Regions from separate parts of the Homo sapiens genome. Here region 1 is linked to region 2. A link means that fine-mapping ties the variant in region 2 to the plasma level of a protein whose gene starts in the linked region. Region 2 holds a variant in brackets. A gene starts in the other region. All regions are shown on their forward strands.

Region 1 (5,374 bases), not on the chromosome of region 2:
AAAAAAAAAAATCAACTTTAGTGTAGTTAATACCTCAGCCACTAGGGGAATATCTGCTTTTATTAAGTTAATATTTCTTGTACCTAAGTAAACATTCCTTCTTCTTCCTGTCTGTTCTTACAAGTAACAAATAAGTAGATAGGTATTCCCTTAAAATTCCGTGTGTCTTTCTTTGGATAATCAACGAGCAGTTACAGAACAACTAGCCCCATTCTAAATCTGATACCAGAGATTTCTGAATCAATGCAATTTTATGTCAAATCTATACATCTCTACCCATGTGAACCAGCTTCTGTTCAAGCACTGTTTGTCGGCCTCCAGAGCAAGGAGCATGACAATGCCCAGCTTTCCTCCTCAGAGCTGTTGCTGTTAATGTGGAAGAAAAATGAGGGACACATCCTTCTAGACATTTTTTTTGACAATGGAACGAGAAGTAGAGTTTCTGCCAGGATATATTTTGCACATCATCCAGATTTTTTTTTTTTTTTTTTTTGAGACAGGTTCTCACTCTGTCACCCAGGCTGGAATGCAGTGGCACAATCATGACTCACTGCAGCCTCAACCTCCTGGGCTTAAGGAATCCTCTCACCTCAGCCTCCCAAGTCGCTAGGACTATAGGTAAGTGCCATCATGCCTGGCTAATTTTTAATTTTCTTGTACAGTCTGGATCTCCCTATGTTCAGACCTTCCAGGCTGGTCTTGAACTCCAGCACAAGCGGTTCTCCCTCCTCAGCTTCTCAAAGTACTGGAATTACAGGAATGACCCACCACACCCAGCCATATTTTGCCTTTTGTATGAGAAAGGAGGAGGTACCGGAAATGTAACCTTCACCTTGAACAGTGATGACTTTTTTCAGGGGTCATCTGGGTGAGTTTCAAAGGATGCCCCACCTGCACCTCACCCAAAGACTTATATGGGAACCATGAGAGGGGCTTTAAAATGCTATATATATAGCAAAACCAATAGTTTTATTATTCTCATATTTTTGAATCCTACTTCCTGAACATAGAATTAGTTCCTCTCTTGCATAATGGTAGATGCTATTTTTATGGCATCACTGATTTTTTTCTTATTTTTCTAAAGAATGAAACAAAAATTTCTCAATTCATCCTGAGTCACCTACTTGAACTTTCTCATGGAACAGAGCGCTAACATTCACTGGATGTGTACCATGCACCAAGCAACATAGTAAGCTCTTTACCTACTTATCTAATTTACTTCTCACAACTACCTAGTTAGGCAAGTCTCTAGTGGCAGCTCTCTGTTCTGTGCCCACAGGTTGGAAAATGATGAAACTGGCCTAACCCATTTGGCCAACCCTGAAGACTCATATGGCCCCGTAACTCACTAGAAACCCTCTCTCAGTAAAGGACTCGCTTTGTTTCCTGGTGAGAGCTGAATAGCATTCATCTTCCTTTCATCTAAACATGTGTTTTTTCTTCTTCTTTCAAATAATGCCTCATTTGCTATTTAAGCTTTTGAAGAAAAATAAAGACAAGAAAATATTAGAGAAGGCACTGTCCTTCCAATCTGCTGCTTGGCATCCCCTACCACAGAGGGCATCTGTCCCTATAAAGTCACCTGTCATAAAAGACCAAGACAGAGGCAAATATCGGACCATTGAAGATACCAATAAGCTGTGTGTGGCTTAACATAAAAATAACCACACATTAGCAGGTGGTAACTCCACCACCAAGGCCAAAAGCAGCCCAGGAAGCTGATTAACACGCACATCAGCCTCTTCTCTCACTTGTGAAGGCAGGTCTGTCTGTCTTCAATTCTTATTCTAGTACTTTTACAAAAAGACTTTTCTTCTTCTCTGCATGTTCCCTCCCTTGCTGTGTCCTAGACAATTCTAAGAATCCCAAATTGAATCTCATTCTCTGAGAAGTAGATAGAATGACATGCTTTTTGAGAATGTGATTCCAACCCCAATTTCTAGAATACAAGAGCCCTAGAGCATCTTAAGACCAGGGACTTTTATATACTCATCACAAAGAATGGATGTGATACTTGTTTAAACATCAGAGAACTCAATTTCCCCTTTAATTCCACTGCCAAGCTTGATTTCACTGCAGCCACTTCATCAAATGAATTTATAAAATATGGACCAATGAAAAGAAACTACAAAAAAAAATTGTGCTCCATAAGCAAAACTTGTCATGCCAGCAACAAATTTCCCTTCTCCGCATCTGCATAGCCCACCTCAAGGAACAAATTTGTCAAGCAACTTTTTAAGTGCCCTCCCCCTCCATCTACTTTGTCCTTCTGGAATAAATACGTTACTGACACAGTTAAGACATGTCAGCCCTTACCTTTCTGTAAGTCACAAAATGGTGGTTAAAAGTCCTTTTCTTCCATTCAGTGGTCGAGACTCTTGCTACGACTGGAGTATCTCCCCCGGGAACACTCCCTCTTCCCTGCTTTGCCTCCCAGCCTCTCCCTTCAGCTTCAGTCAAACATTAACCATTAACATTTTTTATTGCTCTTCGAGAGCCACTGGGTATCATAAAAAGTGTCATTACTTTTACTCCAGGAAAGAAATGACTTTGTATCAAAAGAAGTTTAACTTACATCTAATCCATCTCAAAACAGGTTGCTACATTTTTCAATGTAGATGAGTCAATGAAAAGACAAGAAGTTAGAGTGGAAAAGTTTTTGTGTATCCAACTATCTCTAGAGTGTGAGGTTCATGACATCAAAGACTTTCCATATTTTGTACCCCCAACACTTAGCACAGGAGACTTGATCAGCAAATATTTATGTAGATTCCATCTCAAACACAAAAGACGGAGCAGGGGCGCCATGTCTGAGCAATGACACAGTTCATTGATAACCAGCCACATGAGATATCATAAATGACTCAGAAGACATGAGGAAAGACACAATATGGCTGTGCCTGCTTTTGAAATCCAAGGGTCCCTTCCAAAGTCTGCAAGAAACAACCGATAGCAAATTTCCCCCAAACACAAACCAAGTCCTTTTTTCCCCCCCACAATTCAGGGAATGGATTTACCTAGGAACAACTTATTTTTCCCCAATCAAAATGAGGTTTTTGATTAACCAATAAAAGCCAATGCCCCCAGATTTCTCAAGTCAAGGCTTCTTTTAGACCAATTCCTGATTTCCACACTTTGGTCACTCTGGGAATCCACACTGAAGGTGAGCATCAATGTCATGTCTGTGTCTGGTGTGTTACACTTGGCCCTGTTTCTGTGGACCTTCTCATGTTCATTTCTTGGCTTCTCCTGAGCTGAGGTTGTGTTTTCCATTCCTCTCCAGGTGTGCATCTGACAGAGGGAAAGCAAGAGAGCCCAGCCCACTCTCTAGAAGGGCTCCCTCCTTTCCAGATTTCATGAGAAGGTTTCATGAGTGCTCTAAGCCACTGTGGGAATAGACCTCATTTATCCTGAGGACCCTGCAAGTGAAACCATCTAGTTGCATGCCAGCTGTTAACATCCTTGGTGGACTGGTGGGTTCAGCAAAGGCCCTTCTTGCTTTGTCCCACAGCCAGCATCACTCATTTAGAAGAATGAGGTTATTGAGGCTAAGCACTTCTCACATTCTTCACACCTCTGCCCTCCCATTAGCTGAATAAAGTGTGCTTGTTCTACAAAATCAAATCGCTTCCACTTGCCACATGTTTCAGTTCCTGGAATCAAGGGCAAGCATCTCATCACACAGCATTGTTCATAAAGAAGTTTGGGTCTTCTTTGAAAATTTTAAAATAATAAAGTGCTTTTAAATTTATGAGTTTTTTTTTTTCAAAAATAAAGTGCATATGTATCATTTATAGTCATTGTTTTTCAGCAACAATAACAATGATCGTGACATGTTGGTATATCAATTAAAATTCTGTTTTCTCATTTAGCATGTCTGCAAAGTAGATTCCAGTTTATAGACAGAAAATGGGGACACAGAGAGGTTTTATTTCTTGTCTAAGTCACACAGCCTTTGACTACAGAATCGGGACTGCAACCCTGTTCTGATTCAAATCCCATCCTATTCACTACAGCTATAGACTCTGCCAGATTTTTTTCCTTCCAGCTTTATGCGAGTAAAAAAAAAAAAAAAAAAAAAAAAAAAAGTCCAAGGGCAGAAATCCCTGCATGAGCCCATTCCTGTTGGAAGATGGCCAAGTTCCGAAATGGGGTTCCTCTGTACATCACTTGCTATCTCTAGCCCCCAGCTTCCAGCTCAAAGAATTAGGTTAATTAAACACTGAAAATGCCTAAACCACCCATCAGAGAAATTAACAGGTGATTATTGCATTTCTGAATTACAGAAGCTATTTCTGTACTGTGGGATACCAGGTTAACAAGATTCTGAGAGCTGTTCATATATTCCTTACATGGTTTAGACATCCTTCCAGATTAAATCCAAATGTTAAGAATGTGCACGTTTCAGGTAGCCACCACTGCATTTTAGGAACTCATTTTCATGAAAAGTGAGACATTGCTGGTTCAATAGACTTGCTAATAATAGGAATAAGGAAAATGTAATTGATAAATATTACTGATTTAATTTTCCAAAGCAAAGGAGGTATGATTTATAGGATGAAAACAACTGAAGGCCAGGCGCAGTGGCTCACACCTGTAATCCCAGCACTTTGGGAGGCTGAGGCAGGCAGATTACCTGAGGTCAGGAGTTTGAGACCAGCCTGTCCAACATGGTGAAACCTCATCTCTACTAAAAATGCAAAAATTAGCCAGGTGTGGTGGCAGGTGCCTGTAATCCCAGCTACTCAGGAGGCTGACTCAGGAGAATCATTTGAACCTGGGAGGTGGAGGTTGCATTGAGCCGAGATTGCACCACTGCACTCCAGCCTAGCCGACAGAGCAAGACTGCATCTCAAAAAAAAAAAAAAAAAAGAAAACAAAACTGAACAAGTGAAAGGACTTGGGCTAATGCTTTCAACTCACAGCTTCATGGTGGTGAAAACATTTCAACGCTTTTGTCTATAATGTTTTAAGCATTCCTCCAATATTATCCCTAGAAAATACAAATGTCCATAAATAAGTAATTAATTTATGGACATTTGTAAGAAAGTCTAGATAGCCTCCCAGACAAAAAAGTTATGAAAACTTGGAATTATTCCTAAAAGTCAAAGCATGTTACATTTCTAATATTTATATTCTTTTTTATTTTATTTTATTTATTTTTTGAGATGGAGTCTTGATGTCCCCAAGGCTGGAGTGCAATGGCACAATCTCAGCTCACTGCAACCTCCGCCTCCCAGTTTCAAGTGATTCTCCTGCCTCAGCCTCCCATGTAGCTGGGATTACAGGTGCCCACCACCACACCCGGCTAATTTTTTATATTTTTAGTAGAGACGGGGTTTAACCATGTTGGCCAGTCTGGTCTTGAGCTCCT
Region 2 (5,374 bases):
TCGTCAGCATAGTCTTCCCACAGCTCTGCTCCTTCCTTCTCCCCAGCAATCCTCTTGCCTGTCTTGAGCTCTGGCTGGAATCTGATTAATTTCTGGAGCCAGCTCCCAGTCTCAGTTGTGTGTGGGCAGCCTACAGTCAGCAGCATCTGACATTACAGCCATGTCTCCCAACCCCAATAGAACACTCTTTTCTCTTCCATCTTCTCCAGCTTCCCCACGAAAGCTGGACCCCAATGTGGGCATGGGGCATTCTCAAACCGCAGACAGAGGATTCCTGCAGTCTTAGCTCATCCATCACCTCCCTGAGTGGGGCGGGGCTCCTACCCAGGCTCTGCAGGGAAAGTGGCCACTTGTCCCCATTCAGAATGCAAAGATGTCACCTTTCCCTCTCCCTTCTGGGCAGGCGTTCAAATGACTGTGCTCCCAGCTAGGAGATAGTAAGTTTGCATCATGGGAGAGATTTCAGTAATGAGCACCATTAATTTCAGGAGTGGGCCAGATGTGGTGGCTCACACCTGTAATCACAGCACTTTGGGAGGCCAAGGTGGGAGGATTACTGGAGGGCAGGAGTTTGAGACCAGCCTGGCCAATATGGTGAAACCCCATCTTTACTAAAAATACACAAAAAAATTAGCCAGGTATGGTGGCACATATGCCTGTAACCCCTGCTACTTGGGAGGTTGAGGCAGGAGACTCTCCTGAACCCATAGGCAGAGGTTGCAGTGAGCCGGGATCACTCCATTGCACTTCAGCCTGGACGACGGAGTGAGACTCCACCTCAAAAAAAACAAAAAACAAAAAAAATTCCAGGACTGGAAAAGGTCACTTCCTGATTGCACATGACTTCCTGGAGGAGGTGAGGAAGGTGTAGAACTGTAAAGGAAAGGTGGGATTTTCACAGGTGAGAGAAAGCGGAGGAGCAGGAGGGCACTGCAGGTGTAGGAATGGCTCAGGCAAGGGCCTGGAGTGGAGCAGAGGCTGAGGTTGGGGGTCTGGTGGCTGGAGCAGAAGGGGGTGTGGGTATTAGAGAGGTGATGGACAGAAGGGGTGGTGGATGGGGGTAGATCTGGGATCCATCTCCCCAGGAGCCTGGTGATCTTTACTTACAACAGGAATCCATTTTCCATTTACGTCTGTGTCTCCAGAACAGTGATGGGAATTTTATGGTGTTTGATACTTAAAAAAAAAAAAAAAAAAGACTGGAAACCCCCGAAACCTCCAGCTTGGTTTGCAGCGTCTTGGCTGGCTGTGGTGCTTGACCATGTGGCTCAGCAGTTTCCACAGAGACTGCTCTGAAAAACAACAACAAAACTTTTTGCAAACGAGTATCTTCATGCTGGGCAACTTGATCAAATGTATTAAGAAATTGAAGTGGAAGACCCCAAGAGTAGCCCTGCTCCCTGTTGGCCCCTCCCCTGAGTTACCCCCAGTGGTGTCATTGTCGGGCTCTGAGCTCCACCTCATTTGGACTCTTTAGCTTTTCATTTCTTTGCTCACTTCCTCAACTTGACCACACACACTGAGGCCAGGGCTATACAATGTGTCCCCTGGATTTTGGTGCAGCCATTTGCACAACCGATGCGCAGGCAGTGTCACTTGGTGGGTATGCACAGCGCCTCTTATTTAGGGTCCCTTCAGTGACTCTCGATAAGGACAAGGTCCCCCAGGAGACATGAGAGGCACAGCCCCTCACGAAGATCTCCCAGCGGGCCTGGCCTCAGAGAGTTCGCTGGCTGCCTTTGCAATCCTGTCCCTTGGGCCTGCTGGGAAGAGGAAGAGCTGCAGTTTCTCTCCGCAAAGCTTCTTCCCTTAGGGATGGTCAGACCTATTTAGATCTATTTTTCTTTTTATCTTTTTTTTTTTTTTGTAGAGATGGGTCTCGCTATATTGCCCAGGGTGGTCTTGAGCTCCTAGCCTCAAGTGATTATCCCGCCTTGATCTCCCAAAGTGTTGGGATTACAGGTGTGAGCTACTGTGCCTGGTCTGACCTAATTTTATTTTATAATTTTTTTTTGAGACGGAGTCTCACTCTGTCACCTAGGCCAGAGTGCAGTGGCGGGATCTTGGCTTACTACAACCCTCACCCCCTGGGTTCAAGCAATTCTCCTGCCTCAGCCTCCTGAGTAGCTGGGATTACAGGAGTGCACTATCATGCC[C/T]GGCTAATCTTTGTATTTTTAGTAGAGACGGGGTTTCGCCATGTTGGTCAGGCTTGTCTCAAACTCCTGACATCAAGTGATCCGCCCACCTCGGCCTCCCAAAGTGCTGGGATGACAGATGTGAGCCACTGTGCCTGGCCCTGACCTAATTTTATATTCATAATTTTTTTTTTTTGAGACAGGTTTTTGCTTTGTCACCTAGGCTGGAGTGCAGTGGCTCGATCATGACTCTTTGGAGCCTTGACCTCCTGGGCTCAGGTGATCCTCCCATCTTGGCCTACCAAGTAGCTGAGACCACAGGGGCACACCACTATGCCTGGCTAATTTTTTTTGTGTTTTTTTTTTTTTTTTGGTAGAGATGGGGTCTTGGCATGTTGCCCAGGCTGGCCTGGAACATTTGGGCTCAAGAGATCCTCCTGCCCCGGCCTCCCAAAGTGCTGGAATTACAGGCGTAAGCCACTGAATCTGGCCTGAGCACAGTGTTCTGTAGGGTGACTATTCCATCTTCTTTCTGGGTTGAAACAATCGTTTGGGCTGTTTCCAATTTCCATCAAAATTGCCATAATCGAGAGTCAATAAACATCCTCATGAATGCTGCCTTGAAGGGTTTCTTGGACACAGAGATGGAGGGTGAAATTGCTGGGTCCTAAGGCACTCATTTAAAATTTTAATAGATGCCACCAAATTACCCCTTTAAAGCAACCCAACCCACCTACACACCCACCAGCTGGATAAGAACATTTGTTTTACTTTATCTTGTTTTTGAAATGAAGTGTCGCTCTGTTGCCCAGGCTGGAGTGCAGAGGCACGATCTCAGCTCATTGCAACCTCTGCCTCTGGGGTTCAAGCAATTCTCCTGCCTCAGCCTCCCAAGTAGGTGGGATTACAGGTGCCCACCCCACGCCAGGCTAATTTTTGTATTTTTAGTAGAGATGGGGTTTCACTATGTTGGCCAGTCTAGTCTCGAACCCCTGACCTCAAGTGATCCTCAAATTACTCTTTTAAAACAACCCAACCCACCTACACATCCACCAGCTGGGTAAGAACGTTTATTCTTCACACCTTTGCCCAAACTGGATAGGTCAAACAATGTGCTGGGTCCAAACCAGTTTTTTTTTTTTTTTTTTTTTTTTGAGATGGAGTCTCGCTCTGTTGCTCAGGCTGGAGTGTAGTGGTGTGCTCTTGGCTCACTGCACCCTCCACCTTCTGGTTTCAAGCGATTTTTCTGCCTCAGCCTATTAGTAGAGATGGGGTTTTGCCATTTTGCCCAGGCTGGTCTCGAACTCGTGACCTCAAGTGATCCACACCCCTCAGCCTTGCAAAGTGCTGGGAATACAGGCGTGAGCCACCGCGCCGGGCCCAGACTAGTATTTTTGAGTGTTTCCTTTGGTCATCCATGTTTCCTTTTCTGGGACCTAGCCCCAACTCTTCAGATAATAAAATGACTTCAGATGGAATTCTGTGTTAATTACTCCCACGGTTTTTTCTGGCCTATGGGGTCCTGCGGGGGACAGGATGGAGCAGGGGCAGACTGAGGGACAGAAGGGGCTTGAAGGAGAGCGAGGTGCCACTGTCTCCCCAGCAGGAGGAATTGAAACTCAGGAGAGGCTGCAGGAGTAGGACCAGACTCCAGAGTCCAAGCCCTCGGTCAAGGGTACCCTCCACGGGTGTCGGGGAGGAAGGGCAGCTTCCAGGCAGTTCCATGTGGGCCAGGCAGGCTGTGGGGCTGAGCCAATAGCAGCTCTTCCTGCCTGACACTTCCTGGACTTGTCCTATCTTTTTCCCCCGTGTCCCGCTTCCCACAGCGCTGACGTCTGTCTGTCCGGGTGCAGGGAGAAGGGAGGAAGAGGGGAGAGGTGGGGCGGTGCAAAGGTGAGGCTGTGCTCAGCCCTGACGCTCAGCAAAACCGATAACCAGCACTTTCATTACGTGCACGCCCCAGGGCCACGTCCCTGCCGCTGTCTTGGTCCTGAAGCCTGTTCTGCCCCAGCCCCCTGCCCGCTGGGCCCATGCAGCTGTTGGGGCTCCTCGGCCTCCTCTGGATGCTCAAGGCCTCCCCGTGGGCCACAGGTAAGGGGGAGAGGCGGAAGGGGGTTGGAGAAAAGCTCCTGATGTGATGTTCCAGGAAAGGGGAGGGAAAAGTGGCTGTAAGGCCTGGGGAGGGGGGATAAGAAGGCACCGCTTGGGGCTCTGGGTGCAGGGAGAACCGAGGCACGGCCTGACTGGGGGAGGGGGCGGTGAGGAGAGGTTTCTTCCAGAGCTCCAGGTGCAGGGAAAACCGAGGTTGGGAAAGAGTGAGGGAGCTGGGTCTCTGCCACTCTCCACCAAGCACTGAGCAGGTTGCAGCGGCTGAGCCCCAATCTGTATCTGCAGCTGGAGGGTAGAGGGTGGGATTTACGTCTTCCCAGAGCAGTGCCCTTCCTGTCTTGACTCCTTCTGTCACCTGCCTCACGCCCCCAGCTTGAGTGTCCCCTTCACACTGGCCTCTCCCTCCCTGACAGCCCTCTAACTTCTACCCCTGGTCTCGGTCCTCTGGTTTCAGCCTCTCTGCCTTTTGTCCCCCGGCGGCTCCTCCCCAGCTCTGCCGTCACTCTCTTACCCCGGCCAGGGCCCATGTGTCTGGGTACAGCTGTTGGTACCAGGGCCGGGGCAGGGAGCTCCTGATGTCCACTTCGCTTCCAAGGGTGCGTCTGAGACTACCCGTCGTGGGGTCCCAGGCTTCTCTCTTCTGCCCTGCAGGAACACCTCGCAATTCCTCTATACTTCTCTTTTCTCTGTACTTCAGTGTCTGCTTCTGATCCCCGATCCCAGGCCACCCAGCCTACAGGCCCATGAGTCCCCTTCTCAGTCACCTCCAGGGCCACATCCTGGAGCCAAGGGCTGTAGCCTGGGGATTCTCATAATCCCTGACCCCACTTCCCTGGCACCCACGAGCTAGGTTGAGACGTGACACCCCAGCTCTCAGCCACAAGATGGGCTGTGCCCGAGGTGAGGGGTAGCAGGTCGGGTACCTCCCACTTCCCATCTGCTGTGGCTGCCTGTCTTCCTTGTCCCTGACACCCCCGACAGCCGGATCTCTGATCCTAACTCTGACAAATTGTGAAATGGGTTGAAATCCACATGCTGGGGTTCATGCTTGTAAACTAATGAATCCCACGGCCAAAAGGGAATAGTATAGAAAAATATGTCTATTTGTGTGATGAACACTCACTGCTAAG

Alleles and levels. Alleles are on the strand shown, and positions count from the first base shown. The strength of an association depends on the size of the effect and on how common the allele is.
In carriers of allele T in region 2, the plasma level of the protein whose gene starts at base 2,389 in region 1 tends to be lower than with C alone (strong association).

Evidence for each region. PIP is the posterior inclusion probability: the model's chance that the variant is causal. Protein levels are from antibody-based Olink assays in UK Biobank. Linkage for the fine-mapping came from a reference panel and not from the study's own genotypes, which makes the PIPs less certain.
Region 1: CDH17 starts here. The variant in region 2 is fine-mapped to the plasma level of the CDH17 protein (UK Biobank, PIP above 0.99).

The regions. Positions count from the first base shown.
Region 1 is chr8:94,206,167-94,211,540 of GRCh38, forward strand. It overlaps CDH17 (cadherin 17), which reads right to left and starts at 2,389. Exons shown (of 18, transcript NM_004063.4): 1 at 2,317-2,389. RefSeq lists an enhancer at 1-1,115.
Region 2 is chr7:100,945,460-100,950,833 of GRCh38, forward strand. MUC3A (mucin 3A, cell surface associated) reads left to right here and starts at 4,075. Exons shown (of 12, transcript NM_005960.2): 1 at 4,075-4,226. The coding sequence starts at 4,166. LOC105375431 (a long non-coding RNA gene) reads right to left here. Exons shown (of 3, transcript XR_007060457.1): 2 at 1,108-1,292. RefSeq lists enhancers at 3,614-4,592, 4,593-5,374. The variant C/T (reference allele first, on the strand shown) is at 2,157.